4 separate regions of the Homo sapiens genome follow, and all the other regions are reported to be linked to region 4. Evidence: microRNA targets listed by miRTarBase, many of them from high-throughput screens and not tested one by one. Region 4 holds a microRNA gene; each other region holds the end of a gene's coding sequence.

Region 1 (7,162 bases), not on the chromosome of region 4:
TTAGTGGCATTTCAAGAGTGTTGAAAACATATGTTAGATCTGGCATGTTTAAATAGAAATCCTTCTGAGCCCTACTTTGGGGTCAAGGGAGCCGGCCCATTTATAGAGCTCTTATGATGTGGTAGGCAGCGGCAGTACTTAACCCTAGAGCAGCAGAAAGGGATCCGAATAATTTAGAGAGCTCCATAAAAATTCAGAAAAATAATCTGTAAGAAGGTTCTGTAAATACTTTGATAAAATATTGATTCAGTATGAGATATTAGACTAAAAGTATTTAGAGAAAGGCCAAAGTAGATTTTTGCCCCCTTTAAATGCTCAATAAATAACTTTCAGAAGTGATTAGAGGGAATAAAATGCACATTTATTACAGGGTGTGAAAGCTGTTTTGGCCGAAAGTTATGAAAAAATACACAAAGATCATTTGATTGGAATTGGCATAGCTCCACTTCAGTTCCTTCCAGGAGAAAATGCAGATTCCTTGGGCCTCTCCGGTAGAGAAACATTTTCTTTAACATTTCCTGAAGAACTGTCTCCTGGAATTACATTGAATATACAGGTATCTCTAAATTTTTCAAATATATGATTATGCACTCAAATGTTTATGAATTATTGAATAAGAATCAATTGCTGTAAATTATATACTAATGTCACTTAATGAATGTTAAGTTGCCATTTAAGATGACTCTCTCTTCCATACTTAGATCTAGCTATGTTAATAGTTCATGTTCTCTGAGGAAAAGTGGAAAGAACTGGGTGCTTATACCAGAAAAAAAGAACACATGAAGGGGAATCTTGACTTCCACTTAACAAGTGTCAGCTTTCTTTTCATGGTGGTCATTTTTTTGCTGTCCTGATCTAATTTTAACCGAGGCATACATACCACTCCAAAGAGAGCAAAGTTGAGCGTTCAAAGTTAGAGCAAAACAGACTTTACAACTAAGAAAAAAGGGGAAAGAGTAGGAGTTACTGATTACATGCAATCAATATTTGGTGTAAAATGAATGTGAGTAGTGAGTATAACTTCCCCAATTAATAAGTCAAAATCTAAATGCAGCTATTTTTCTACTTAACTATGAAGCCCATGGTCAGGTATCTCAGGTGTTTTTCAAGCAGCAGCAAAGTTTCAGGCAATCAGAATATAAGAAATTAGAACCAAGATAAATCAGACAGAATCTGTGGCAAGTATAGTCATTAAATATGAAGACAAATGGTCTTAACCATCAAGTAGCACCTGGAAGATTTACTTGCTCACATGAGATGTTTTTGCTCCTTTCAAGACAAGCACTGGAAAAGTATTCAGCGTGATTGCTTCGTTTGAAGATGATGTGGAAATAACATTATACAAACATGGAGGATTATTAAACTTTGTGGCACGAAAATTCTCATAGTATCTACTTACCATAGATACCTTTCATAACTGGTAACTGCAAAGCCTTTTGTGCTGGACCCAGGAATCCTTACCATGGAGCAGCAGATAGTCCCAGTATACTCACTTATCTCATCCATGGATGTAAATGATGATGAATCAACATAGTAACTGAAATGAAATCTTCTTGATTTTAAATAATATACGAATGGTGCTATTAATATTGCTAAAATCAACGTGTGAAGTGTGTTGTGGAAGAGACCTGTAAGTATGGGGGGGGGGCGATATTTTATCAGACCATTTTGTAAATAAAGGCAGAATTTGTGTTGAAGATTCTTATATGAATAACCTTCCTGGATTTGTTTAGTTTTGCACCAATAAAACTGTGTACTACTGTTTGTTGGTTTAAGAGTAGCAGATTGAAATATAAGAAGCCAGATTAGACTCTAAAATTGTGGCCATTGGAATCTCATTTATAAATGGACCTTTTAAGTATATTAATTCCTCTTCAGAATTGAGCTGGACACATTTGGCATTCTTAGTTTGTCATATAACCAGGTTTATCCTTAGTCTAACTGCAAGGGATGGAACCTGCCCCAGGTCACAATCATTCTGTCCAATCCAGCCAAGGTTCCCTCCACATATGAAGATGGACCATGGCAGGATACAACTGATTGTGTGGCACCATGTATTAGCAGTGGGAATATGTATCACATATGATGCAGCCTTTCATATTTCAGCAGTTTGCCACTGTGACTGTCTGGCAAGCCCCCAGATGGCGTTATATTAATTGGATTAGATTATTTTGCTCACCTTATGTAATACTGTAACTTCCTATAACCTAATATTTTCGGTATCATTAACCAAAATTTCACACTCATAGTTGCTAAAGAGAATGTTATTCAATCATTAAACTCTGAACTGATTTCTTCTATACATTTAAATTATCCACCCTCAATAATACGGGTGCTCAACCCTATGCATTTTTTAAGTGTTGCTATTTCTTAATTAAATTGATTTCCTGTCATTTTGAATCATTTATCACCTGCGATGCATGATTCTATTAATTTTGTTATGTTACTGTTTTAACCAAAGCTGACCGTAAGGATAAAACACTTAAGTTGTTGCTGAGTACTATATATCCTCAATATGCATGTCTGCCCATCACATCAAATGTTCTGTCAACAAGATGTTTGGTAATTTTTTTTAAAAAGGTTGGAAAATTAATTATAGAAGGTTCTATACTGTTTTTTTAATTAAGAAACTAAGTCTAGCAGGCTAAAGGTTAATTGTAGTGATTTTTTTTCACATAGATATCTTTCTATGACCTAGTTAGTTACTGCAATTCAGAATTAGTTCACATTGCATAAAGAATTACTTGTTGTAAGCAAAATGCTGAAACTACCAAACCAGTGGATGAAGACCACTAAGAACTTTGCACATAATCATACAATCTTTTGAAAATATTTTGCAAATATGTGTTTAGACAATAAGATGGACTAGAGTTCGACAAAATGATTTCTTTATTTAAATTTTGTATAAGTATTTTCTTCGACACTTTCAAATTATATTGTGTTCTTGATATATGCTGTATATTTATTTGTTAGTGCATGTGTTTTTAATTTACATGAAAACATGAGTTAGGAGAAATTACAGGTTGAAAGATGAAATGCCTGTATGTGCTCTGAAGAAATGGTAATTCCAGATTGTGCAGGGGGAAACAAATCTATTTTGTTTTGTTTTGTTTTTTGAGACGGAGTCTTGCCCTGTGGCTGGGCTGGAGTGCAATGGCGCGATCTTGGCTCACTGCAACCTCCGCCTCCCGGGTTCAGGGGATTCTCCTGCCTCAGCCTCCTGAGTAGCTGGGACTACAAGCATGCACCACCACGCCCAGCTAATTTTTGTAGTTTTAGTAGAGATGGGGTTTCACCATGTTGGCCAGATGATCTGAATCTCTTGACCTCGTGATCCGCCCGCCTTGGCCTCCACAAGTGCTGGGATTACAGGTGTGAGCCACCACACCCGGCCTATATTGTTTTGAAAGCATACTCTATATATAGTTATGGGCAGAGGCACAGGCATCCTCAGCAGCTGATTCAGGAGATGATGGTAAAGCTAGCTAACTATGAATTAAACATTCACATATCCAGTCTACCTGGTCCAGTAATAATACAAGCAAATCTTGTATTTCAGGAACAAATCAAGGTTCTCTTAATTTTTTGGCTTATATACAATGAAGTAAAAACTTGATAAACATGGTTTCAAATTGAGGAGGAGAGTCTTGGATGTATGTTTTAATATGTATACCTTATAATTCTGCCTCTAGCCAAATGCTATGTTTGCAAAATGTGGCATCTGTTAGTTTTTATTGTCTGTGTCTTCTTTGTTTACTATACCTTGGGTAATTTTGTGTTACCAAAAAAAAAAAAAAAAAAAGGAAGTGTAATGTCAGACACACAAGAAAAGCAAATCAGTGTTGTAAGCTTAAAGTACAATTTCAAAGGTCACTACCAACAGCAGGGTTTTTTTTATACTTTGAAAACATTATGCTACATATCATTGCCATTTTCATATTTTGGGGTTTTGCTACTCTTATACAATGGAATCAATGGAAATGTCATCCAGCCACTGAATTGCCATTATTATATCTAAAAAGTTTCTAAGATGACAGTTATCACTATTTTGTTTTATCTCCATGCTGACATTTGAAAGAAGGTACTAGTATCCCTCTAGCCAGATTGCTTAGTTTTTCGTTGGTAATCAAACAACAGTTGTACTAAAGGAAAGTAAAGCTAGGACCTAAATCAGAATCATAGTTGCCTGCATATATGGTAACAAGGTCGTGTGCATTTGCTTTCACAGTGATGAGTGAGAGGATGAGAAGAAATTATTTGACATTTTTCTGTGGTTGAATAGAAGACACCTTTCTTTTGTCTTTAGGTTTAGGAGGAGATACTAAGATACTGGATGTTTATCCTATCTTAGTTTGGTTGGAGTAATAAGAGAGAAGAAGAGGGTGGACTTTGGCTTTTCAGTGTTTTTTCCCCTAAAGAGTGATATTGCTGACGTTTCTATCAATTTTACACATAATATGTGGCTATGAAACCATATATCTCACTTAAGTAACAAAGTAATCACTTTGTCTATCACTAAGTAATAGACAAAAATCATTGTCTATTATTTAAAGCCAACAAAACAGTGTAACAGTTTTAAGTTCAATAATGTTAAGTATTGTATAGAAATATATTGGAGGCAAAGTTCAGTTGATGACAATTGTGTATATGTTACTGATGCTGTAAATTATTTTTAATAAAGAAAATTGTATTATCACATTTGATTCTTGTTCTGTTTTGTAGTAGTTGAAAATAAAACAACATGATGTAAAAAATATGCTGCCATCCGGCTGGGCACGGTGGCTCACGCCTGTAATCCCAGCACTTTGGGAGGCCGAGGCAGGCGGATCACGAGGTCAGGAGATCGAGACCATCCTGGCCAACACAGTGAAACCCTGTCTGTACTAAAAATACAAAAAAATTAGCCGGACATGATGGCGGGCGCCTGTAGTCCCAGCTACTTGGGAGGCTGAGGCAGGAGGATAGCATAAACCCGGGAGGCAGAGTTTGCAGTGAGCAGAGTTCACGCCACTGCACTCCAGCCTGGGCGAAACAGTGAGACTCTGTCTCAAAAAAAAAAAAAAAAAGCAAAAATGAAATGTCCCGCCATCCAGATGCCATCCAGGAGCAGCTGAGGATGCCTGCTCCCTGTGCTGCCCGTTCATTAGTGTTCATGAAACAAGTCATCGGAAGCTGGGAGCCAGGATCCCAGGTGTATTTGTTTGTTCTCGCATTGGTATAAAGAAATGCCTGAGACTGGGTAATTTATTTTAAAAAGAGGTTTAATTGGCTCATGGTTCTGCAGGATGTACAGGAAGCATGATGCTGGCATCTGCTTGGCTTCTGGGGAGGCCTCAGGAAACTTACAATCAAGGTGGAAGATTAAGTGGGAGCAAGCACTTCACGTGGCCAGAGCAGGAGGAACAGAGAGACAGGGGAGGTGCCACACACTTTTAAACAACTAGATCTCAGGAGAACTCACTATTGGGACAACACCAAGGGGGATGGTGTTAAACCATAAGAAACCACCCCCATAATCCAGTCACCTCCCACCAGGCCCCACCTCCAACACTGGGGATTACAATCCGACATGAGATTTGGGCGGGGACACTCATCCAAAAAGACGTATCCTTTCTTCCCACTATTATTAGCAACCTAAAAGAGTAAGGTTTATTTCTTAGAATTCAGTAATCATAAACCATAATTGGCACTTTATTAGAATTTTCTAAGGATTCCAATTTAGTATTCTAAGAAGTTTGCATTACCTAAAGGCTAATACCAACATAGGCACAAGCTGATAGTTTGAATATGCAGTCTAGGAGGAAACTTAAGAGCTTCATCAGTGTAGCATTTAGTTGGTTTACAGTTTTCACTTGATGCTAATTTTGCTTTTTAATTACAAAGTAGCTTCAGATTTACCATTTTGATTTGATGTATGTTGTAAACCTGTGTTCTGTACTTGAAAAATGCATTTATTGCAAAAGCAGATGCATATGTAATTCTCACAAAATTTGCTGGTATAATGACAAGTGTGGCCAGGCGAGGTGGTTCACACTTTGGGAGGCCAAGGCAGGAGGCAGGAGGATCACTTGAAGTCAGGAATTTGACCCCACCCTGGGCAACATAGCAAGACCCTGTTTCTTAAAAAATAATAATAATTAGTTTGGTGTGGTGCTGTGCACCTGTAGTCCCAGCTAGTTGGGAGGCTGAGGCAGGAGGATCGCTTGAGCCTAGGTTGAGGCTGCAGTGAGCTATGATTTATGCCACTGCACTCCAGCCTGGGTGACAGCAAGACCCTGTCTTTTAAATAAGTGTGTTGTCACTGTGAATTTTGTGTTTATGTGGTGTTAGTACTGAATTTTAAGCATTTTTTTCAGTATTTCCCTATCAATATCTATATGATCTGTGGCAGGGTCCCTTTTTATTACCAATATTGGTAATTTGTGTTTTCTTTTTTTTCCTTGATTAGTCTTTCTAAAGGGTTAGAAATTGAGTTAATTTTTTAAAGAGCCAATTTTTTACATTATTTTCTCCATTGTTTTCTGGTTTTTTGTTTGGTTTTGGTTTTGGATTTTTTTTTTTTTTTTTTCTTTTTGAGACGGAATCTGGCTCTGTTGCCCAGGCTGGAGTGCAATGGTGCGATCTCGGCTCACTGCAACCTCCACCTCCCGGGTTCAAGTGATTCTCCTGCCTCAGCCTCCCGAGTAGCTGTGATTACAGGCATGCGCCACCATGTCTGGCTAATTTGTTTTGTATTTTTAGTAGAGACGGGGTTTCACCATGTTGGCCAGGGTGGTCTCAAACTCCTGACCTTGTGATCCGCCCACCGGGGCCTCCCAAAGTGCTGGGATTACAGGCATGAGCCACCGTGCCCGGTTTGTTTTGTTTTATTGGTTTCTGCTCTGAAGTATTTCCTTTCTGTTACTTATTTAATTTCCTCCTTTCCCCCAGCTTTGTAACACTTTTCCTCCAATGTAAATGTAAATATTTAAATTTTCCTCTAAGTGCTGCTTTAGCTGTAGCCCACCGTGGAAACTAAAGCCAATTTTGAGCATTTTAAACAACTTGTAATATATAAAGGAAGTATCATAAAACTGCTGGGATATTGTTTTATGAGACATTGTTTTATAATGTAAAATCATGTCCATAATCTCACTGCAAATTGTTCATTTTGTTTCACTCC
Region 2 (7,000 bases), not on the chromosome of region 4:
CAGTGAAGCAGGAACAGATTAACACTGAGCCTCTAGAAGACACAGTCCTGTCCCCGACCAAAAAGAGAAAGAGGCAAAAGGGGACGGAAGGGATGGAGCCAGAGGAGGGGGTGACAGTTGAGTCTCAGCCACAGGTGAAGGTGGAGCCACTGGAGGAAGCCATCCCTCTGCCCCCTACGAAGAAGAGGAAAAAAGAAAAGGGACAGATGGCAATGATGGAGCCAGGGACGGAGGCGATGGAGCCAGTGGAGCCGGAGATGAAGCCTCTGGAGTCCCCAGGGGGGACCATGGCGCCTCAACAGCCAGAAGGAGCGAAGCCTCAGGCCCAGGCAGCTCTGGCAGCTCCCAAAAAGAAGACGAAGAAAGAAAAACAGCAAGATGCCACAGTGGAGCCAGAGACAGAGGTGGTGGGGCCTGAGCTGCCGGATGACCTTGAGCCTCAGGCAGCTCCCACATCCACCAAGAAGAAGAAGAAGAAGAAAGAGAGAGGTCACACAGTGACTGAGCCAATTCAGCCACTAGAGCCTGAACTGCCAGGGGAGGGACAGCCTGAAGCCAGGGCAACTCCGGGATCCACCAAGAAGAGGAAGAAGCAGAGTCAGGAAAGCCGGATGCCAGAGACAGTGCCCCAAGAGGAGATGCCAGGGCCGCCACTGAATTCAGAGTCTGGGGAGGAGGCTCCCACAGGCCGGGACAAGAAGCGGAAGCAGCAGCAGCAGCAGCCTGTGTAGTCTGCCCCCGGGAAACTGAGGAACTAAAGAAAGCTGAAGGTGCCCACCTGGGCCACCAGAAGGTGACACCCCCAGAATCCCTCCCCAGAGACTGCACCAGCGCAGCCAGCAGGAGCCTGGCCTGGGAGGACGATTTATTATTACACTGGGGGTTTCCTTGGCAGCTGGGGTCATCAGGGTACTTTCAAGAAGGGCTCGTGCAGGACATCAAACAGCCTCCGGGCCTGGATGGGAGGGAGAAAAAAATGAGGAACCAGTCATTAAAGGAGCTGTTTCCTGGGTAAATCTAGAGTGGGGTTTTGGTTCTTTATTTTCCCCTATACCCTCAAGCATTTATCCATTGAGTTACAAACAATCCAGTTACAATCTTTTTAAGTTATTATTATTATTATTATTTTTTTTTTTTTTGAGATGGAGTCTCGCTCTGTCGCCCAGGTTGGAGTGCAGTGGCGCAATCTCGGCTCACTGCAAGCTCCGCCTCCCGGGTTCACGCCATTCTCCTGCCTCAGCCTCCTGAGTAGCTGGGACTACAGGCCCCTGCCCAGCTAATTTTTTGTATTTTTTTTTAGTAGAGATGGGGTTTCACCACGTTAGCCAGGATGGTCTCGATCTCCTGACCTCCTGATGCGCCTGCCTCAGCCTCCCAGTGCTGGGATTATAGGTGTGAGCCACTGCGCCTGGCTAAGTTATTATTATTTTTTTGAGACAGTCTCCTGGTGTCACCCAGGCTGGAGTGCAGTGGTGTGATCTTGGCTCACTGCAACCTCCGCCTCCTGGGTTCCAACGATTCTCCTGCCTCAGCCTCCCGAGTAGCTGGGCCTAAAGGTGCCCACCACTATACCCGGCTAATTTTTGTATTTTTAGTAGAGACAGGGGTTTCACCATATTGGCCAGGCTGGTCTCGAACTCCTGACCTCGTGATCCACCTGCCTTGACCTCCCAAAGTGCTAGGATAACAGGTGTGAGCCACCGCACCCTGCCAAGTTATTTTAAAATGTACCATTATTATTGACTATAGTCACCTGGTTGTGTTATCAAATAGTATGTCTTATTCATTCTTTCTTTGTGTGTGTGTGTGTGTGTGTGTGTGTGTGTGGTACCCATTAACCTTCCCCATCTCCCTGCCAGCCCCTAACTACCCTCCCCAGCCTCCAGGAACTATCCATCCACTCTTATCTCCATGAGTTCAATTGTTTTGATTTTTAGATACACAAATAAATAAGAACATGCAATGTTTGTCTTTCTGTGCCTGGCTTATTTCACTTAACATAATAATCCCCAGTTCATTATGTTGTAATTGACAGGATCTCATGTTTTTTTTGTTTTGTTTTGTTTTGTTTTGAAAAGGGTCTCGCTCTGTCGCCCAGGCTGGAGTGCAGTGGCACAATCTTGGCTCACTGCAACCTCCGCCTCCCGGATTCAAGCGATTCTCCTGCCTCAGCCTCCCAAGTAGTTGTGATTACAGGCACGCGCCACCACACCCAGCTCATTTTTTCATTTTTAGTAGAGACAAGGTTTCACCACGTTGGCCAGGCTGGTCTTGAACTTCTGGCCTCAAGTGATCTGCCCGCCTCGGCCTCCCAAAGTGCTGGGATTAGAGGTGTGAGCCACCGCGCCCAGCCAGGATCTCATTCTTTTTTATGGCTGAAGAGTATCCATTGTGTGTAAGTACCACATTTTCTTTGCCTGGTCATCTGCTGATGGACACAGGTTGGTTCTAAGTTTTGGCAATGTGAACTGTGCTGCAACAAACAGGAGTGCAGATACCTGTTCCATACACTGATTTCCTTTTTTTGGGGATATACCCAGCAGTGGGATTGCTGGATCATGTGGAACCTCAACTTTTCAGTTTTTAGAGGAGCCTCCAAACTGTTTTCCATAGTGGTTGTACTGATTTACATTCCCATCAAAAGTATATGAGGGTTCCCTTTTCTTCACATCCTCGCCACCATTTGTTATTGCCTGTCCACCATTTGTTATTGCCTGTCCTTTGGATAAAAGCCATTTTAAGGCCGGGCACCATGGCTCACACCTGTAATCCCGGCACTTTGGGAGACCGAGGTGGGTGGATCACCAGAGGTCAGGAGTTCAAGACCAGCCTGACCAACCTAGGGAAACCCCATCTCTACTAAAAATACAAAAACTAGCTGGGCATGGTAGCGAGTGCCTGTAATCCCATCTACTCAGGAGGCTGAGGCAGGAGAATCGCTTGGATCCAGGAGACGGAGGTTGCAGTGAGCTGAGATCATGCCATTGCACTCCAGCCTGGGCAACAGAGTGAGACTCCATCTCAAAAAATAATAATAAGCCATTTTAATAGAGCTGAGATGGTATCTCATTATAGTTTATTTTTGGTTTTTGGTTTTCTTTTTTGAGATGGAGTCTCACTCTGTCACCCAGGCTGGAGTGCAGTGGTATGATCTCGGCTCACTGCAAGCTCTGCCTCCCAGGTTCATGCCATTCTCCTGCCTCAGCCTCCCGAGTAGCTGGGACTACAGGTGCCCACCACCACACCCAGCTAATTTTTTTTTGTATTTTTAGTAGAGACGGGGTTTCACCATGTTAGCCATGATGGTCTCAATCTCCTGACCTCACGATCCACCCGCCTCGGCCTCCCAAAGTGTTGGGATTACAGGCGTGAGCCACCATGCCCGGCCTATTTTTGGTTTTTTTTGAGATGGAGTTTTGCTTCTGTTGTCCAGGCTGGAGGGCAGTGGTGTGATTTCAGCTCACTGCAACCTCCGTCTCCCGGGTTCAAGAGATTCTCCTGCCTCAGCCACTCAAGTAGCTGGGATTACAAGCATGCGCCACCACACCCAACTAATTTTTATATTTTTAGTAGAGATGGGGTTTCGCCATGTTGGCCAGGCTGATCTTGAACTCCTGGCCTCAAGTGATCTGCCCGCCTCGGCCTCCCAAAGTGCTGGGATTACAGGCATGAGCCACTGCACCCAGCCTCACTGTAGTTTTGATTTGCATTTTTCTGATGATCAATGATGCTGAGCACCTTTTCATATGCCTGCTTGCCATTTGTATGTCTTTTGAGAAATGTTAATTCAAATATTTTGCCCACTTTTTGATTGGATTATTATATTTTATCCTATAGAGTTGTTAGAACTCTTATCTTCTGATTATTGATTCCTTGTCAGATGGTTAGTTTGCAGATATTTTCTCCCATCCTGTGTGTTGTCTCTTCACTTTGTGGAATGTTTGCTGTGCAGAAGCCTTTTATTCTTTTTTTTTTTTTTAATTTTTGAGATAGAGTTTCACTCTTATTGTCCAGGCTGGAGTGCAATGGCGCTATCTTGGCTCACTGCAACCTCCACCTCCCGGGTTCAAACGATTGTCCTGCCTCAGCCTTCCAAGTAGCTGGGATTACAGGCATGTGCCACCATACCTGGCTACTTTTTTGTATTTTTAGTAAAGATGGGGTGTCTCCATGTTGGCCAGGCTGGTCCCAAACTCCTGACCTCAGGTGATCCAGCCGCCTCAGCCTCTCAAAGTGCTGGGATTACAGGCCCAAGCCACCGCACCTGGCTTAGAAGCTTTTTAATTTGATGTGATCCCATTTGTCCATTTTGCTTTAGTTTCCTATGCTTATAGGGCATTACTCAAGAAATCTCTGCCCAGTTCAATGTCCTGGAGAGCTTCTCAATGTTTTCTTGTAGACGTTTCATGCATTGAGGTCTTAGATTTAAGTCTGTAATCCATTTTAATTTGATTTTTGTATATGGCGAGAGATAGCTATCTAGTTTCATTCTTCCTCATTGGATTGCTTCTGCTTTGAGACAGGATCGCTCTGTCACCCAGGCTGGAGCGTAGTAACATGCTTATAGCTCACTGCAGCCTCAACCTCCTGGGCTCAAGCGATCCTCCCACCTCAGTCTCCCCAGTAGCTGAGACTACAGGCACGTAGCAAGCTCACACCACCATGCCCAGCTAGTTTTTTTTATTTTTAGTAAAAATGAGGTGTCCACTTGCCCAGGCTGGTCTCCAACTTCTGGCCTCAAGCAGTCCTCCCGCCTTGGCCTCCCAAAATGTTGGGATTACAGGCGGAAGCCACTGTGTCTGGTCTTTGGTTCTTTTTTCACCTTAAAACTTTGGGGTCTCAGGTTGTGTTTATTTGGGGCTCTCTCCTTCCCCCAACTCCTTGGGTTCTTTCCCAGAGCTCTTACTTTCTGAGGGCCCAGGCCTGGGCATAAGGCCAGATCTTCTCTTGATGCGGCGATGAGCTGTTCCAGAGACTGAAAGGTGAAAGCGAGGGGTCAGGGCAGTTGAGCACAAAAGCCTCCCCTGTCCCAGCTGAGGAGGGGCCTCAGATATTCCCCAGGGGAGATGAGGGCCTGTGGGAAGGCAGGACGGGCAAGGGGTGGGCAGGGAGATGGAAGGAAATGGGTGACAGGCTTTCTAAAAAAGGCAAGGGGACAGAAATGCCTATGGGGCAGGGGAGCCATTCCTTACTCCAAATGTGGTCAGGAGGGTCTGACTGTCCGTTTTGTTGACTGACTTCACGGTGGTCAGACATTCAGTCACCTGGAAAGGGTGGAGGCAGGAGTGTGTCGGAAGAAGAAAGGCCAGCAAGACTGAGCCTAGGAGGGCAGGGCTGGGTCACAGCTGTGTCCCCAGACTGCCTGGCGTGCAGGAAGCACTCAATAAACGCTTTTTTTCCCAACTGATTAAAAAGTCATCTCAGGCTGGGCGTGGTGGCTCATGCCTAATAATCCCAGCACTTTCGAGGCCGAGGCGGGAGGATCACCTGAGGCCAGGAGTTCAAGACCAGCCTGGCCAACACACTGAAACCCCATCTTTACTAAAAAATACAAAAATTAGACAGGCATGGTTGTGGGCACCTGTAGTCCCAGCTACTCAGGAGGCTCAGGCAGGAGAATCACTTGAACCTGGGAGGCAGAGGTTGCAGTGAGCCGAGATCATGTCATTGCACTCCAGCCTGGGCAAGAGAGTGAGACTCCATCTCAAAAAAAAAAAAAAGGAATTAGGCAGGTAATTGGGCAGAGGGAACAGAAGGGGCAAGTGCTTGGAGAAGCGAGCTAGGCCTGGGAGAAGTGAAGTGTGAAGTGGAGGCCACGGGGCTTCTGAGCCTGACGGGCCCTTGTTGAGCCTGGTGAGAAGTCTGGGCTTTCTCTCGGGGTACTGGGGAGCCATGGGAGGATTTTGAGCTAGGGAGGGTAGCAGCAGATTTGTGCTCAGGAAAACCCCTCTAGCTGCAGTTTCGGTGGGATGGGCCAGGAAAGACGAGGCCCAGGGATGAATGGACAGTGCCTTAAAATTGGAACTGAAGCTCAACCACCCAGGAGCTGCGGGGAGGCCCAGGCAGGGATGGGAGGTGAGGTGGCCTCACCCGGGAGACGAAGTCCTGCTCTAGCTTCTCCATCAGGAGGTCCGCTGGTTTCTGCTCATAGGCCTTGTAGGTCTCCAGGTACCGCCCAGCTTCCTCGGGGCTGGGATAACAGGATACAGGGCAGCCGGGAGGTGAGGTATCAGATTATAGATTTGCTTCATTATGGTCAGTCATAAGAATTGCCAATACTAGGCCGGGCGCGGTGGCTCACGCCTGTAATCCCAGCACTTTGGGATGATGAGGCAGGCAGATCATCTGAGGTCAGGAGTTCGAGACCAGCCTGGCCAACATGGTGAAACCTCGTTTCTACTAAAAATACAAAAAAGTAGCTGGGCTTGGTGGCGCGTGCCTGTAGTCCCAGCTACTCAGGAGGCTGAGGCAGGAGAATCGCCTGAACCCGGGAGGCGGAGGTTGCAGTGAGCCAAGATCACGCCATTGCACTCCCGCTTGGGCAACAAGAGTGAAACTCCATTTCAGAAAAAAAAAAAAAAAAAGGCCGGGTGTGGTGGCTCACGCCTATAATCCCAGCACTTTGGGAGGCTGAGGTGAGCAGATCACCAGGTCAGGAGATCGAGACCATCCCGACTAACATGGTGAAACCCCATCTCTACTAAAAATACAAAAAATTAGCCGGGCGTGGTAGCGGGCGCCTGTAGTCCCAGCTTTTCAGGAGGCTGAGGCATGAGAATGGCGTGAACCCGGGAGGTGGAGTTTGCAATGAGCCGAGATCACGCCACTGCACTCCAGCCTGGGCGACAGAGCCAGACTCCGTCTCAAAAAAAAAAAAAAAAAAAAAAACAATTGTGGTTGCTAAAAATCAAAATTCCAGCCCATCCCCCGCCAAATACAACCTGGTAGTAACCACTGCTGGGCGCATCTTGATATCTTTTCTGGCTACAGGCCAGCTCTT
Region 3 (7,162 bases), not on the chromosome of region 4:
TTGGCAGAACTAATAGCCCTCATTCGGGCACTAGAATTAAGAAAAGGAAAAAGGGTAAATATATATACAGAATCTAAGTATGCTTACCTAGCCCTCCAAGCCCACACAGCAATATGGAGAGAAATGGAATTCCTAACTTCTGAGGGAACACCTATCAAACATCAGGAAGCTATTAGATTATTATTGGCTATACAGAAACCTAAAGAGGTGGCAGTCTTACACTGCTGGGGTCATCAAAAAGGAAAGGAAAGGGAAATAGAAGGGAACCGCCAAGCGGACATTGAAGCCAAAAGAGATGCAAGGCAGGACCCTCCATTAGAAATGCTTATAGAAGGACCCCTAGTATGGGGTAACCCCCTCCAGGAAACCAAGCCCCAGTACTCAGCAGAAGAAACAATGGGGAACCTCACGACGACAGTTTCCTCCCCTCAGGATGGCTAGCCACTGAAGAAGGAAAAATACTTTTGCCTGCAGCTAACCAATGGAAATTACTTAAAACCCTTCACCAAACCTTTCCCTTAGGCATTAATAGCACCTATCAGATGGCCAAATTATTATTTACTGGACAAGGCCTTTTTAAAACCATCAAGCAGATAGTCAGGGCCTGTGAAGTGTGCCAAAGAAATAATCTCCTGCACTGCAGGCCATACATTTCAATTCCTGTATCTTTAACCTCCTTGTTAAGTTTGTCTCTTCCAGAATCCAAGCTGTAAAGCTACAAATCGTTCTTCAAATGGAGCCCCAGATGCAGTCCATGACTAAGATCTACCGTGGACCCCTGGACCGGCCTGCAAGCCCATGCTCTGATGTTGATGACATCAAAGCCACCCCTCCTGAGGAAATCTCAACTGCACAACCCCTACTATGCCCCAATTCAGCAGAAAGCAGTTAGAGCGGTCATCAGCCAACCTCCCCAACAGGACTTGGGTTTTCCTGTTGAGAAGGGGGACTGAGAGACAGGACTAGCTGGATTTCCTAGGCCGACTAAGAATCCCTAAGCCTAGCTGGGAAGGTGACCGCATCCACCTTTAAACACGGGGCTTGCAACTTGGCTCACACCCAACCAATCAGGTAGTAAAGAGAGCTCACTAAAATGCTAATTAGGCAAAAATGGGAGGTAAAGAAATAGCCAATCATCTATCCCCTGAGAGCACAGGGGGAGGGACAATGATCAGGATATAAACCCAGGCATTTGAGCTGGCACCAGCTACCCTCTTTGGGTCCCCTCCTTTTGTATGAGAGCTCTGTTTTCACTCTATTAAATCTTGCAACTGCAAAAAAAAAAAAAAAAAAAAAAAAGTCTGTAGGTATGTGTTTGCAGGCACAGTGGCCACATGTTCAAAGAAAAATAGATGACAAATTAAAAAAAATATTTACTCAGGACCCAGATATGTATAGATTTTATTTACATTCCTATATGATTTTTATTATGACCACAAAAATGACGCTATAATAAAGATAACAATTTAGTTTTATATTTCAAAGTGACTAAAAGTGTAGATTTGGATTGCTTGTAATTCAAGGAATAAATGTTGAAGGTGAAGAATCCCTCATTTACCCTGACGTGATTATTACATATTTTATGCTGGTATCAAAATATGCTATATATGGCAGAAATATATCTACACACTATGTACCCATAAAAGTTAAGAAAAATAAGTTTAAATTTGTCAAGGCAAAAAAAAAAAGAAGTTTAAATAAGATTAAAAGTATAAAAATGTAACCTACGAGAACAATATTCTTTAATTTATTTGCAGGTTAAAGCCACTGAAAAAAAGAGATTACTAGAGATGTTATTCCACTCTTACCAAATAGTAAACTGTTGCCATCTCTTACCTACACCCTTGAGTAAGGTGGGATAGGTTAAAGCGAGTGGCATAATAACACTTCATTGAATGTACAACAGACTTAACATGTCAAAAAATGTTTAAAAAATTAAGTTTACATATAATCTAAAAATTTATGAATGTACTACATTACATAAAAGCACAACTAATATAATACATCACTAATTTAATTTTAATTTTAACTAAAATTTTAAAATGTTTTTCTCACTATAATGCACAAAAATATATTCCTCAGAACACCTACCTCATACATCACTCAATATTTTAAGTTAACCACAAAAAGCCTCTCCATTTAGATTTTTATCATGCATTTTATATTTTAATATCCTTTCTCTTTTATGAAAAAGGTCATAAATAATGCCCATCTAATAAAAAAGAATCTTTCATATCTCTGATGCAGCAACAATTGATCGCATGCTTTCACATGTAAATAAAGTAGGAATGAAGAGCATGAAGTAACTTGAGAGTTGAATTACATCCTTATTTGCTTTTCAGAGTCTGTAATTTTTTTCAATATTGTGATGTTAATTTTTTTGATATTTGAAGTATACAAAAAGTATACTTCAAATGTAATTATAATTCTCCAAAAAATCACCTCCTCTTTTTTAAGTTATATGCAAATAACTTATCTAAATTTTAGATTGAAATTATTTTTTTTACTCAACACTCTGATTTAGTGTAGTCTGAAGTGCCAGTGCCTTATCATTTCTACTGTGAATTCTCTGACATTTACAGAGTTAATTTTGGATTGAATATTTTTCATATTTACTGCATCTACAAAAAAAACTTACTCTGTTTTCTAAGCTGTAGTTTATAAACTTTTTTCCAAATTTATTACATTTGCAGGTTTTTTTCTCTATTATACATTCCCTGATATTGAACAAAGTTTGAGCAACTTTAGGGTTTTTCTCTAGCACAAAATATGCACAATAAGATCTGTGATACAAATATAGTACTACAACCGTCTTTATATTTGTAATGTTTGTCATCAAAAGAAATACTCTTCACCATTCTAAGGTTTATATTTTCTAAAAGATATTCTCACAGTAATTGCATTTTTAATATTTGTTTTAAGTATAAACTCTGTGATGTTAAGATGTGAGCAGATATTAATGGCTTTTCCACATTCTTCATAGGTGTACATTTTTTTTCAAGTATAAATGCTTTCCTATGCGATAAGGTGTGAGTATTGGTTAAATATTTTGCCACATTCTTCATAGTTTTCTCTAGGATAAATTAGCTTATACTCAAGTGTGACAACCATTTAAAGGCTTTGTGACATGACTCACATCTAGGGCTTCTTGACACTATGATTTCTTTTATGTTTAGAAAAGTTTAAGGTGTTCTCAAGAGCACTGTCATGTCTTTTAGGTTTGTAGAGCTTCTCTCCAGTATGATTTGATAACTTATTAAAAACTTTGCCACATTCGACCGGGCTCAATGGCTCATGCTTGTAATCCCAGCACTTTGGGGCACTTTGGGAGGCCAAGGCGGGTGGATCACTTGAGGTCAGGAGTTCAAAACCAGCCTGGTCAAAATGGTGAAACCCCGTCTCTACTAAAAATACAAAAATTAGCTGGGCGTGGTGGCAGGCGCCTGCAATCCCAGCTGCTTGGGAGGTTGAGGCCAGAGAATCGCTTGAACCCAGGAGGCGGAGGTTGCAATGAACTGAGATTGCACCATTGCACTCCAATTTGGGCGACAGAGTGAGACTCCATTTCAAAAAAAAAAAAAAAACTTTGCCACATTCTTCACATTTGTAGAATTTCTCTACAACATAAATTATCTTATGTGTAATAAGGGTTGAAATGTTTTTAAAGCTTTTGTCACATTCTTCATATTTATAAAATTTATCTTCTGTATGAATTCTCTTATATTTAGTATGAGTTGAAGACCAGTTAAAGACTTTGTTACATTCTTCACATTTGTCGGGTTTCTCTTCAGTATGAATTATCTTAATGTGTGGTAAGATGTGAGAAATGGTTACAGTGTTTGCCACATTCTTCATATTTGTAGGGCTAGTTTCCATTATGAATTATCTTATGTTCAGTAAGGTTTGAGGACGTTAAAAGCTTTGCAACATTCTTCACGTTTGTAGGGTTTCTCTTCAGTATAAATTGTTTATTAAGAATTGAAGAATTAGGCTGGGCACGGTGGCTCACGCCTTTAATCCCAGCACTTTGGGAGGCCGAGGCGGGCAGATCACCAGAGGTCGGGAGTTCGAGACCAGCTTGACCAACATGGAGAAACCCCGTCTCTACTAAAAATACAAAATTAGGTGGGCGTGGTGGCACATGCCTATAGTCCCTGCTACTCGGGAGGCTGAGGCAGGAGAATCGCTTGAAAACCCAGGAGGCGGAGGTTGCAGTGAGCCGAGATTGTGCCACTGCACTCCAGAGCCTGGGCAACTAGGGCGAAACTCTGTTTCAAAAAAAAAAAAAAAAAAATTGAAGAATGCTTATGGCATTATTCACATTTGTAGGGTTTCTCTCCCATTGAATTATGTTGTTTAGCAAGAGTTGAGGACTGGCTAAAAGCATTGCCACTTTCTTCACATTTGTAGGGTTTTTCTCCAGTACGAATTTTCTTATGTCTAATAAAGTTTAACTGATTAAAAGCATTGCCACATTCTTCACATTTCTAGAGTTTGTCTTCAGTATCAACTATTTTCTGTTGAGTAAGGTCTGAAAACCAGTTAAAAGCTTTGCCACAGTTTTCATATTTGTAGGGTTTCTCTTCAGTATGAATTATCTTATGTTCAGTAAGGTTTGAGGACCAGTTAAAAGTTTTGCCACACTCTTCACATGAGGCGGGTTTCTCTCTAATTTATCTTATATTCAGTAAGATCTGAGAACCCGTTAGAAGCTTTGCCACATTCTTCACATTTGTAAAGTATCTCTCCAGTATGAATTATCTTATGTTCAGTAAGTTTTGAGAAGCAGTTAAAAGTTTTGCCAAATTCTTTAAATTTGTAGTGTTCCTCTCCAAGATAAATTATTTTATGTTGAGTAAAGTTTGAGGACTGGTTAAAAGCTTTGCCCATTCTTCATATTTGCAGTGTTTGTCTCTACTATGAATTATCTTATGTTCAGTAAGATTTGAGGACTGATTAAAAGCTTTGCCACATTCCTCACATTTGAAGGGTTTATCTTCAGTATGAATTATCTTACATTCAGTAAGATTTGAGGACCAGTTAAAAGCTTTGCCATATTATTCACATTTGTGGAGTTTATCTTCTTTAGGAATTCTCTCATTTTGAGTAACAGCTGAGCAATGGTTAAAAGCTTTGTCACCTTTATTATATTTGTAGGGTTTTCCTCCAGTATCAATTATTTTATGTGTATTTAAGGTGTGAGGACTGGTTAAAGGCTTTGCCACATTCTTTACATTTGTGGGGTTTCTCTCCAGCATGAATTGTTTTCTGCCTATTAAGGCTTGAGGACTGGTTAAAAGCTTTGCCACATTCTTCACATATGGAGGGTCTGTCTCTAGTATAAATTATCTTATGTGTATTAAGGTTTGTAAAATGGTTGAAAGCTTTGACACATTCTTCACATTTTTAGGGCTTCTCCCCAGTATGAATTATCTTATGTTTAGTAAGGGCTGAAAGATGGTTAAAAGCTTTGCCACATTCTTCACATTTGTAGGTTTTCCCTCCAGTATGAATTGTTTTATGTTGAGTAAGGTGTGAGGACTGGTTAAAGGCTTTGCCACATTCTTCACATTTGTAGGGTTTCTCTCCAGAATGAATTATCTTATGTTTAGTAAGGTTTGAGGACTAAATGCTTTACCACACTCTTCACATTTGTAGGGTTTCTTTCCAGTATGAATTATCCTATGTTTAGTAAGGCGTGAGAAATGGCTAAAAGCTTTGCCACGTTCTTCACATTTGTAGGGTTTCTCTCCAGTATGAATTGATTTATGTTTAGTAAGGTGTGAGGATTGCTTAAAAGCTTTGCCACATTCTTCACATTTGTACGGTTTCTCCCCAGTATGAATTATCTTATGTTTCATAAGGGTCGAGAAATTGTTAAAACCTTTGCCACATTCTTCACATTTGTACGGTTTCTCCCCAGTATGAATTATCTTATGTTTCATAAGGGTTGAGGAATTGTTAAAAGCTTTGCCACATTCTTCACATTTGTAGGGTTTCTTTCCAGTATAATTATCTCATGTTTTCTAAGGGCTGAGAAATGCTTAAAAGCTTTGCCACATTCTTCACATTTGTAGGGTTTCTCTACAGTATGAATTACCTTATGTTCCATAAGTTTTGAGACCACTTAAAAGCTTTACCACATTCTTCACATTTGTATGGTTTCTCCCCAGTATGAATTATCTTATGTTTCCTAAGGGCTGAGAAATTGCTAAAAGCTTTGCCACATTCTTCACATTTGTACGATTTCTCCCTAGTATGAATTAGCTTATGTTTCTTAAGGGTTGAGGAATTGTTAAAAGCTTTTCCACATTCTCCACATTTGTAGGGCTTCTCCCCAGTATGAACTGCTTTATGTCTAGTAAGGTGTGAGGACTGCTTAAAAGCTTTGCCACATTCTTCACATTTGTATGGTTTCTTCCCAGTATAAATTATCTTATGTTTCCTAAGGGTTGAGGAATTGTTAAAAGCTTTGCCACATTCTTCACATTTGTAGGGTTTCTTTCCAGTATGAATTATCTCATGTTTTCTAAGGGCTGAGAAATGTTTAAAAGCTTTGCCACATTCTTCACATTTGCAGGGTTTCTCTCCATATGAATTACCTTATGTAAAGTAAGTTTTGAGGACCACTGAAAAGCTTTACCACATTCTTCACATTTGTAGGATTTCTCTCCAGTATGAATTATCTCATGTTTTCTAAGGGTTGAGGAATTGTTAAAAGCTTTGCCACATTCTTCACATTTATAGGGTTTCTTTCCAGTATGAATTATCTTATGTTTTCTAAGGGCTGAGAAATGCTTAAAAGCTTTGCCACATTCTTCACATTTGCAGGGTTTCTCTGCAGTATGAATTACCTTATGTACAGTAAGTTTTGAGGACCACTTAAAAGCTTTACCACATTCTTCACATTTGTAGGGTTTCTCTCCAGTATGAATTATCTCATGTTTTCTAAGAGTTGAGGACTGGCTAAAAGCTTTGCCACATTCTTCACATTTGTAGGGTTTCTTTCCAGTATGAATTATCTTATGTTTCCTAAGGGCTGAGAAATGGTTAAAAGCCTTGCCACATTCTTCACATTTGTAGGGTTTCTCTTCAGTATGAATTACTTTATGTCTAGTAAGGTGTGAGGACCACTTAAAAGCTTTACCACATTCTTCACATT
Region 4 (7,162 bases):
GGGAGGGATGTGGTGGCCTGGACCAGGACAGGGGCAGGAGTGAGGTGGCAAGAACGACGCAGATCCCAGAGCTATTAAGGAGATGGACTCGCCAGGCTTTGGTGAGGAATTGGCCATGGTGGGCATGGAGCCGGAAGATGAAGTTACCTTGGGGCATATCAGTGCTGACAAAGGGGCCTGGGGGAGAGATGATGAGTCTGATGTGGCTCTGAGAGCCTGAGAGCCTGAGAGCCAAGGGGATGTCTGGAGAGGATGTCTGGAGAGGTATCAGCCTAGAGCCTGAGAGCCAAGGGGATGTCTGGAGAGGTATCCAGGAGGCAGTTGAAATCAGGCCTGGAGATATTCACTTGGGAGTTGGAAGGTTACTGACAGGTGGTTGAAGGCAGTGCACAGCTGAGGCCACCCAGGAAAGGTCCTTGGAAGCCCTAAGCACCAAAGATATGGTGTTCACCTCACCCCCATGAGTCAAAAAGGAGTCTAAATTAAATTATAAAATGTAACACTTACATGCCTTACAAAACTCTTGGACTGGCACGGTGGCTCACACCTGTAATCCCAGCATTTTGGGAGGCCAAGATGGGCAGATTACCTGAGGTCAAGAGTTCGAGACCAGCCTGGCCAACATGGTGAAACCCCGTCTGTACTAAAAATACAAAAAGTTAGCCGAGCATAGTGGCGCATGCCTGTAATTCTAGCTACTCGGGGGGCTGAGGCAGGAGAATTGCTTGAACCTGGGAGGGAGAGGTTGCAGTGAGCCGAGATCACACCACTACACTCCAGCCTGAGCAACAGAGTGAGACTCCATCTCAAAAAACAAAAATAAAAATAAAAACAAAAAACGTTTGCAATCATCACATCCATGGGTTCACAGAAACACATTTTCCTCCTCATCTTCCTTGTTTGATGCTCCTGGTCTGATGGTGCCCTGAGGTGTCTACCTGCTTGCCGGCTAGGTGGCCCAGCTCCAAATCCAGGCAAAAACAAGAGGCTCAGGGGGCACCAACAGGCTGGGACCGAGGGGAACAAGATGCCCACAAAAGAGAGAAGGAACACCCAGGAAGACTGGAGGAAACCCAGGAGAGTGTGGCATCACTGGGGCCAAGGAAGGAGGGGGTTCCAAGAAAGAGGACATGATTAGTCATGTAGAAAACAAGAGGAGGCACGGAGATGAGGACTGAAGAGGGGGCCCGGATATGGCTGTGGGGCTGCCAGGCAGGCTCAGTAAAGCAAAGCTGGTCACCTCTCCACGTATCTCTGCTCAAGGGGGCCAGCCTTTGGTGGGGACACTCGGGTGCCCTTTGCCCTTGAGGATCCTCCGGACCTACAAACAAGGAGGGAGTAAGACCCTGGGGTAGGGTTGAGGCGAGCTGACCTCAGAAGGAGAAAAGGAGACCAAATATTTCAGTGGACTCAAGGCAGGGGGCGCCTCTGGGTGGCAGTCCCTCCTCTGACCACAAGGGGGCAGCATAAAAGCAGGTCCTGCGTGGGCTCAGGCTTCTGTAAGGAGTCGGCTTCCAGATGCTGTTTTCATCTGTGATGCGTCCTTGGGCTCTCTGGGCCTCAGTTTCTTTCTCCGCAAAATGGGGCAGTTGGACATCATATTCTCTTGGACCCTGTTGGGATCCCCTTCATTCTGCATCCCCTTACCGCCTTCCCAGCTCAATGTGACACCCCCCATCTGACCACAATAAGTGTGTTAAGTGAGTAAGGTCAATGGCACAGGTATAGCATGTGGTGAGAACACAGAATGCTAGCCCGAGGAGGCCTACAGGCGTGTGCAAGGTTAGCTGAGTGAGGACAGACCATCCCATGAGCTTGGGTTAAACCTGCCTGCAGCGACCGTCTGTGAAGGTGGCCTCTGCTTCCTCTTACGGGGAGTACTGGGGTGGGGGTGGGGCTGCCTCTGCCTCTTCTGTCTGCCCCCAGGGCAGAGCTCTGGCTCTTTGTGCAGGCTCCTTGTCCTGCCACTGTTTGCCCTCTCTGGGACATGTCAGCACCTGTGCCCTCTTTGGGCCTCAGGGCTCATCGAGACAAGGAGGGAAAGAGCATGAGAGTCTCCTCAGCACTGCTGGTCCTCAGGTCTCTGAGGCAGCCCCACCCTATCCTGGGATGCCTCCCAGTGCTGCCCTGTGGGTCTGCAGTCCTTTGGTGCCAGTTGGTGGGAGGGGCAATGTGAGGGTCACGACAGTTGATTCCTGGCTCTGGGCCGCCATCAGATCTTCAGAGGGGCTGGTGTGCTGGTGGCTGCTGGTGGCCTCAGCTGGGGACAAGGAGTCAGGGTTGGAGCCTCATTCCATGTCTGACAAAGTGTGGCTTTAGTTGATCACTGCTGGTGGGTGGCAGGGAAGCTGAAGCCAGGGCAGGAGCAAGAGGTGGCCTGGGGAGACAGTACCTCTGTGGAGGGCCCCTTCCCCTCAGAAGCTGGGCCAGCCCAGGGCAGCCGAGGACAGTGACACAGGAGAACACCCACGGGCCAGTTGTCCGGTGCCAGCTCCCCGGCTGTGTGATCTTGGGCAAGTGGGCAACCCTCTCTGAGCTATGGTAGGGAGACCTATCCAGAATTCAGGAAAGCATGTTATAGGCCCAGGGCAGTCCTGGTATTGGGGCAAAGAAGGGCAGGCAACCCTGGGTCACCGACTTGTCCTAGGGGTCCAGTCCCCGGGATTTGGCCTCTTGGAGCCCACTGGGTGGGTGTCTAGGGGAAACTGAAGATGGATCTGACTCAGTTGGGTCCTGGTACCAGCATTTTGGCTTGGGAGTGGGAAAGGGTAATAAAGGACTCTACAGTCACAAGAGCTTGGCCGCTGCCTGGACAGGCAGCCTATGCAAGTCCCCTCCTATCTCTGAGCTGCCATTTCTTTATCTTTCTGAGTTCCACCTGGGGCAGGACCTTCAGCTTCCCAAGTCTCACCAGACCATCGCCTCCCGGGTGCCAGGCTGAGTTGGCTCTCAGGCCCTCTCTTTCCCAGGCGGGCCTCGGGTGGTGCCAGGTGCCGCAGGAGCTTCCGGTTGGTGCAGGGAGCTGGCTGGCGTGGGCTGTCTGAGGGCAACTGTCTCGGTGCTTAGCTGAGGCCTCATCGAGTGGCACCTGTGGCCCGGGCCAGCTGGGATGGGAAAGGGTGGTCTGGCCTCCACCTGCTCAGCTCACTTGCCCTCTAGCCACTCTCACTTGAGCCTCAGCCTCCTGTATCTGCTGCTGCTGCTGGAGCCCAAGGGGCTGGGGCCATGGCTGGGTGCCCCAAAGACAGGAGAGAAGGAGGTGCTGGGGCTTTGCGCCCTGGAGGGGACAGCTAGAGACTCATCAGGCAGGAAGTATCTCCTCTTCTTGATTCTGATCCTTCACCCACCTATGTCAGCCTCACACCTGTACCTGTACACCTGTGGGGCAGCCTTCCCCACCTGTGGTTTTCCCCACTTCTGGAGCCCTAGAAGAATATGTAGAGCAGGCTTGGGGTGTGGCCCCATGGAGCACCCCCAAACTGCCTCTGGTCCCCAGGCTCCGGCTTGTGCTGTCCCTTCCCGCTGTCTGGATTTTGGCCTGTCTGTGGGACCTTGAGGAGCCTGGAGCCTGGAGCTGCCAGCTCGTCTGGGCCCTCCAGGCTCCAGGATCTCTGGAGGCCATGGGTGGGGCTGGTGCTGGCCTTGTTGGTGTTGCTCCTGCTGGAGTAGTGGTGCCCTCTGGCATCTGTGCCTTCCACGGCAGGTCACTGGTGCCATTTGCCATGTGCAGTGGGTGCTGGAGTCTAAGCTCGTGGAAAACTTCCAAGGCCTGGGCTATGGTCCTCATGGCCGTGCGGCCTGCCTTGACACACACAGAAGGGACACATGCACTAGTGTGCGTTCAGGGGACACGTGAACACACCCCTCATATTCAGACAGGTGTAAACAGCTCAGCCACACAAGTGCTGAGCTCCAGCAGACTCACGCACGCAGCCACACATATAGACAAGGTACAGGTGTAGCCAGTGTGTGAACATTGATAAGTCTGTCAAGGCAGATATGTGCACAGTCCAGAACACAAGACGGGTAGAAAGGCAGACCTACAAATGTGCACAGATCCCTGCCAACAAACATGCATATCCATACATGCACATATGCATACACAAGCTGTCATGGGCACACTTACAGGGGAACATGCCTTACTCAGAGCACAGAGCATTTCTCCAGCCCTCCCTGCATCCACTGCAAATGGGGACACATGTCCTATCCCTCAGCAGGCAGGGAAGGGCTGGGGGAGGGAACTTCACCTTTTCTTAGACCCATGGCAATGGAAAGTGGGCACCATCTTGGGTGATGTAGCCAAATGTCTCCTGTTCTGGGAGTCTCGGCACACATAGAAGATTCTGGAGAGGAGGGGGAGGTGCAAGGCATGATCCACTTCAAGCAGCCACCAAGCCCAGTGGGAGCTGGGTCTCTGGGCTTAGCAAGACAAGAGCCCAGGGGCCGAGGCTGAGCTGAGGAGCCTCCAAACCTGTAGACAGGGTCATGCAGTACTAGGGGCGAGCCTCATCCCCTGCAGCCCTGGCCTCTGCAGGGACAAGGGAGAGGAGAGGGTACGTCTGCAGGAGGGATTGTGGATTCAGCCTCCCATGTAGGATATGAAGCGACTCAGGCTGGGAGCAATCAGAGATCCCTGGGTTTGTCATGGCGCTGGGGTCTCCTTAGGACATCAGAGCCAGCTGTTACCTGCAGGGAAACCATCCAGATATATTTAGATACACACATACTTAGCATTGCATTACAATTGCTGACAGTATTCAGCACAGTACCATGCTGTACAGGTTTATAGTGTAGGAGCAATAGGCTATGCCATGTGGCCTAGTTGTGCAGTAGGCTACACCATCTAGGTTCATGTAAGTTTGCCCACCAAAATTGCCCGGTGACACATTTCTCAGAATGTATCCCCATCTTTTTTTTTTTTTTTTTTTTGAGATGGAGTCTCACTCTGTCGTCCAGGCTGGAGTGCAGTGGCACGATCTCGGCTCACTGCAACCTCCGCCTCCCGGGTTCAAACAATTCTTCTGCCTCAGCTTCCTGAGCAGCTGGGATTACAATCACGTGCCACCACACCCAGCTAATTTTTGTATTTTTAGTAGAGATGGGGTTTCGCTATGTTGGCCAGGCTCATCTCGAACTACTGACCTCAGGTGATCCGCCCACCTCGGCCTTCCAAAGTGCTGGGATTACAGGCATGAGCCACTGTGCCCGGTCGTATCCCCATCATTAAGTAACGCATGACTGTGTTCATAAGGTTGTGCAACCGGTTCCACTATGGCGCTCCAGAACATTTTTGTGACCCCACAAGAAACCCTGTGGCCATGAGATGTCACTCCCCATTCCGTCAGCCTCTGCAACCACTAATTCACTGTTCGTCTCCATGGATTTTCGTATTCTGGGCATTTGGTAGGAATGGAATTAGACATTATGTGGCCTTCCGTGTCTGGCTTCTTTCACTTAGCATAATGTTTTCAGGGCCCTGTGCCTCTGGTTTATAAGTGAGGACACTGGCCCAGACAGAGGGAGTGACTGTCCAAAGTCACATAGCAGCCAGGAGTCAGGCCCCTACACAGTGTTGGCTTTTTTAGGACCTCAGCCTTGGTCCCTGGGGTTGTGGGCTGTGGACAATGGAAGAGGTCACACTTCATCTAAAGGGGCAGCTATTACTCAGCTCTGCCTGGGACAGAATCCAGGGGCAGCACTGCCTAATACTAAACACTGTAAATAATGATACAAACGGCCAGGCACGGTGGCTCAAGCCTGTAGTTCCAGCTACTTGGGAGGCTGAGGCAGGAGGATCACTTGAGCTCAGGAGGTCAAGGCTGCAGTGAGCCATGATTGTGCCACTGCACTCCAGTCTGGGTGACAGAGAAAGACCCTGTCTCAAAAAAAAAAAAAAAGTTACAAATAACACCAGCTAACATTTTGCATGCTTCTTTTGTGCCTGGTGCTGTTCTAAAGAAGTGCTGTATAGGCACTTTCTTATTTAATCTCCATGACAATCTTGGTGAAAGTGCTGTTATTATCCCCGTTATGCAGACGAAGGAAGCAGAGCACAGAGAGGTTAAGTAACTCAGCCAAGGACACACAGCAAGCTAGTGGCAGAGTTAGGATTGGAACCCAGGTAGTCTGACTCCAGAGCCCCTGCTCTTACCCACCTATACAGATGCATTCCTTCTTCCAGATTTGTAAAGGAAGGCAGTAATACAGATTTTAATGTGAAACCTCATAAGTTTAAATGTTTCCAAGTGTCGACAACTTATGACAATTGTTTTTTGACACCGTACAGGCTGCAGGGCCTAAGCCTGGAAAGTTTCGTTTAATACAAAGGGAGAGGGCCCTCACCTTTGGTTTCTTCCTCAGCATCACTGCCATTCTGTCCAATACCACTTGGTCATCTTCTCCCTGACATTTCTTGCAGAGGCAGAGAGAGCCTGACATTGGGCACCCAGGTCCCGCTGAGGGTCGTGCTATAGCAGACAGCCCCATGGCCTGGTGCTGGCCTTGTGCCTGGCAGTGTGACTCTGGGCCAGTCCCTTCCCCTCCCTCAGTCATTCTTTTCTCCTCTGCAACCTGGGCGGGGAAATTTCTCATGGGATTAAATGTGATAACTGGCACAGACTAGTCATTCAATAGCCATGGTTTTTTTTTTTTTTTTTTTTGAGACAGGGGTCTCACTATGTTGCCCAGGCTGGTCTCGAACTCCTGGCCTCAAGTGGTCCTCCACCCTTGGCCTCCCAAAGCTCTGGGATTACAGGCATCAGCCACTGTGCCTGACTGCCATAACCATTAGCTGACCCAGAAACAACGGGAGATACAACCTGTTGTATCTGCATAAAGGGCCAACATTTGGGTTGCAGAGGTTTGTTGAGACTAATAATACCATTTATTGAGCACTGAGATAATTCCAGATACAGTGCACATTACATGCATTGCCTCATTCAGTCCTGAACTTTTTAAGCCCTGGAGGCCAGCCATTAAGGTTATGGGCCTAAGGTTTGAGCTAGGCGGCTGATATGGTTTGGGTGTGTCCCCACCAAATCTCATCTTGAATTGTAGTTCCCATAATCCCCACATGTTGTGGGAGGGGCCCGGTGGGAGGTAATTTAATCACGGGGGTGGTTACCCTCATGCTGTTCTCATGATAGTGAGTGAGTTCTCACGA

What was found. The annotated mature microRNA hsa-miR-4478 reads GAGGCUGAGCUGAGGAG and lies in region 4 at 4,446-4,462, shown strand. An mRNA with a match to its seed (bases 2 to 7 or 8) in the 3' UTR can be bound and repressed. Matches are read on the target gene's strand: a 7mer-m8 pairs with bases 2 to 8, a 7mer-A1 pairs with bases 2 to 7 and ends in A, and an 8mer does both.
Region 1: miRTarBase lists IREB2 as a target of hsa-miR-4478. Seed matches in the 3' UTR shown: 7mer-m8 at 3,213-3,219.
Region 2: miRTarBase lists POLR1G as a target of hsa-miR-4478. Seed matches in the 3' UTR shown: 7mer-m8 at 1,237-1,243, 7mer-m8 at 1,367-1,373 and 7mer-m8 at 1,529-1,535.
Region 3: miRTarBase lists ZNF99 as a target of hsa-miR-4478. Seed matches in the 3' UTR shown: 7mer-m8 at 4,167-4,173 and 7mer-A1 at 3,988-3,994.

The regions. Positions count from the first base shown.
Region 1 is chr15:78,496,756-78,503,917 of GRCh38, forward strand. IREB2 (iron responsive element binding protein 2) reads left to right here. Exons shown (of 22, transcript NM_004136.4): 21 at 371-556; 22 at 1,278-4,698. The coding sequence ends at 1,388. Among named protein-coding and RNA genes, the nearest start is that of HYKK, 7.2 kb to the right of the region's middle.
Region 2 is chr19:45,408,771-45,415,770 of GRCh38, forward strand. It overlaps POLR1G (RNA polymerase I subunit G), which reads left to right. Exons shown (of 3, transcript NM_012099.3): 3 at 1-1,967. The coding sequence ends at 731. ERCC1 (ERCC excision repair 1, endonuclease non-catalytic subunit) reads right to left here. Exons shown (of 10, transcript NM_001983.4): 7 at 6,091-6,190; 8 at 5,193-5,264; 9 at 4,907-4,975; 10 at 1-955. The coding sequence ends at 905. Among named protein-coding and RNA genes, the nearest start is that of POLR1G, 5.6 kb to the left of the region's middle.
Region 3 is chr19:22,750,799-22,757,960 of GRCh38, forward strand. ZNF99 (zinc finger protein 99) reads right to left here. Exons shown (of 4, transcript NM_001080409.3): 4 at 1,385-7,162. The coding sequence ends at 6,516. Among named protein-coding and RNA genes, the nearest start is that of ZNF99, 30 kb to the right of the region's middle.
Region 4 is chr9:122,117,447-122,124,608 of GRCh38, reverse strand. It overlaps MIR4478 (microRNA 4478), which reads left to right and starts at 4,442; the gene lies at 4,442-4,527.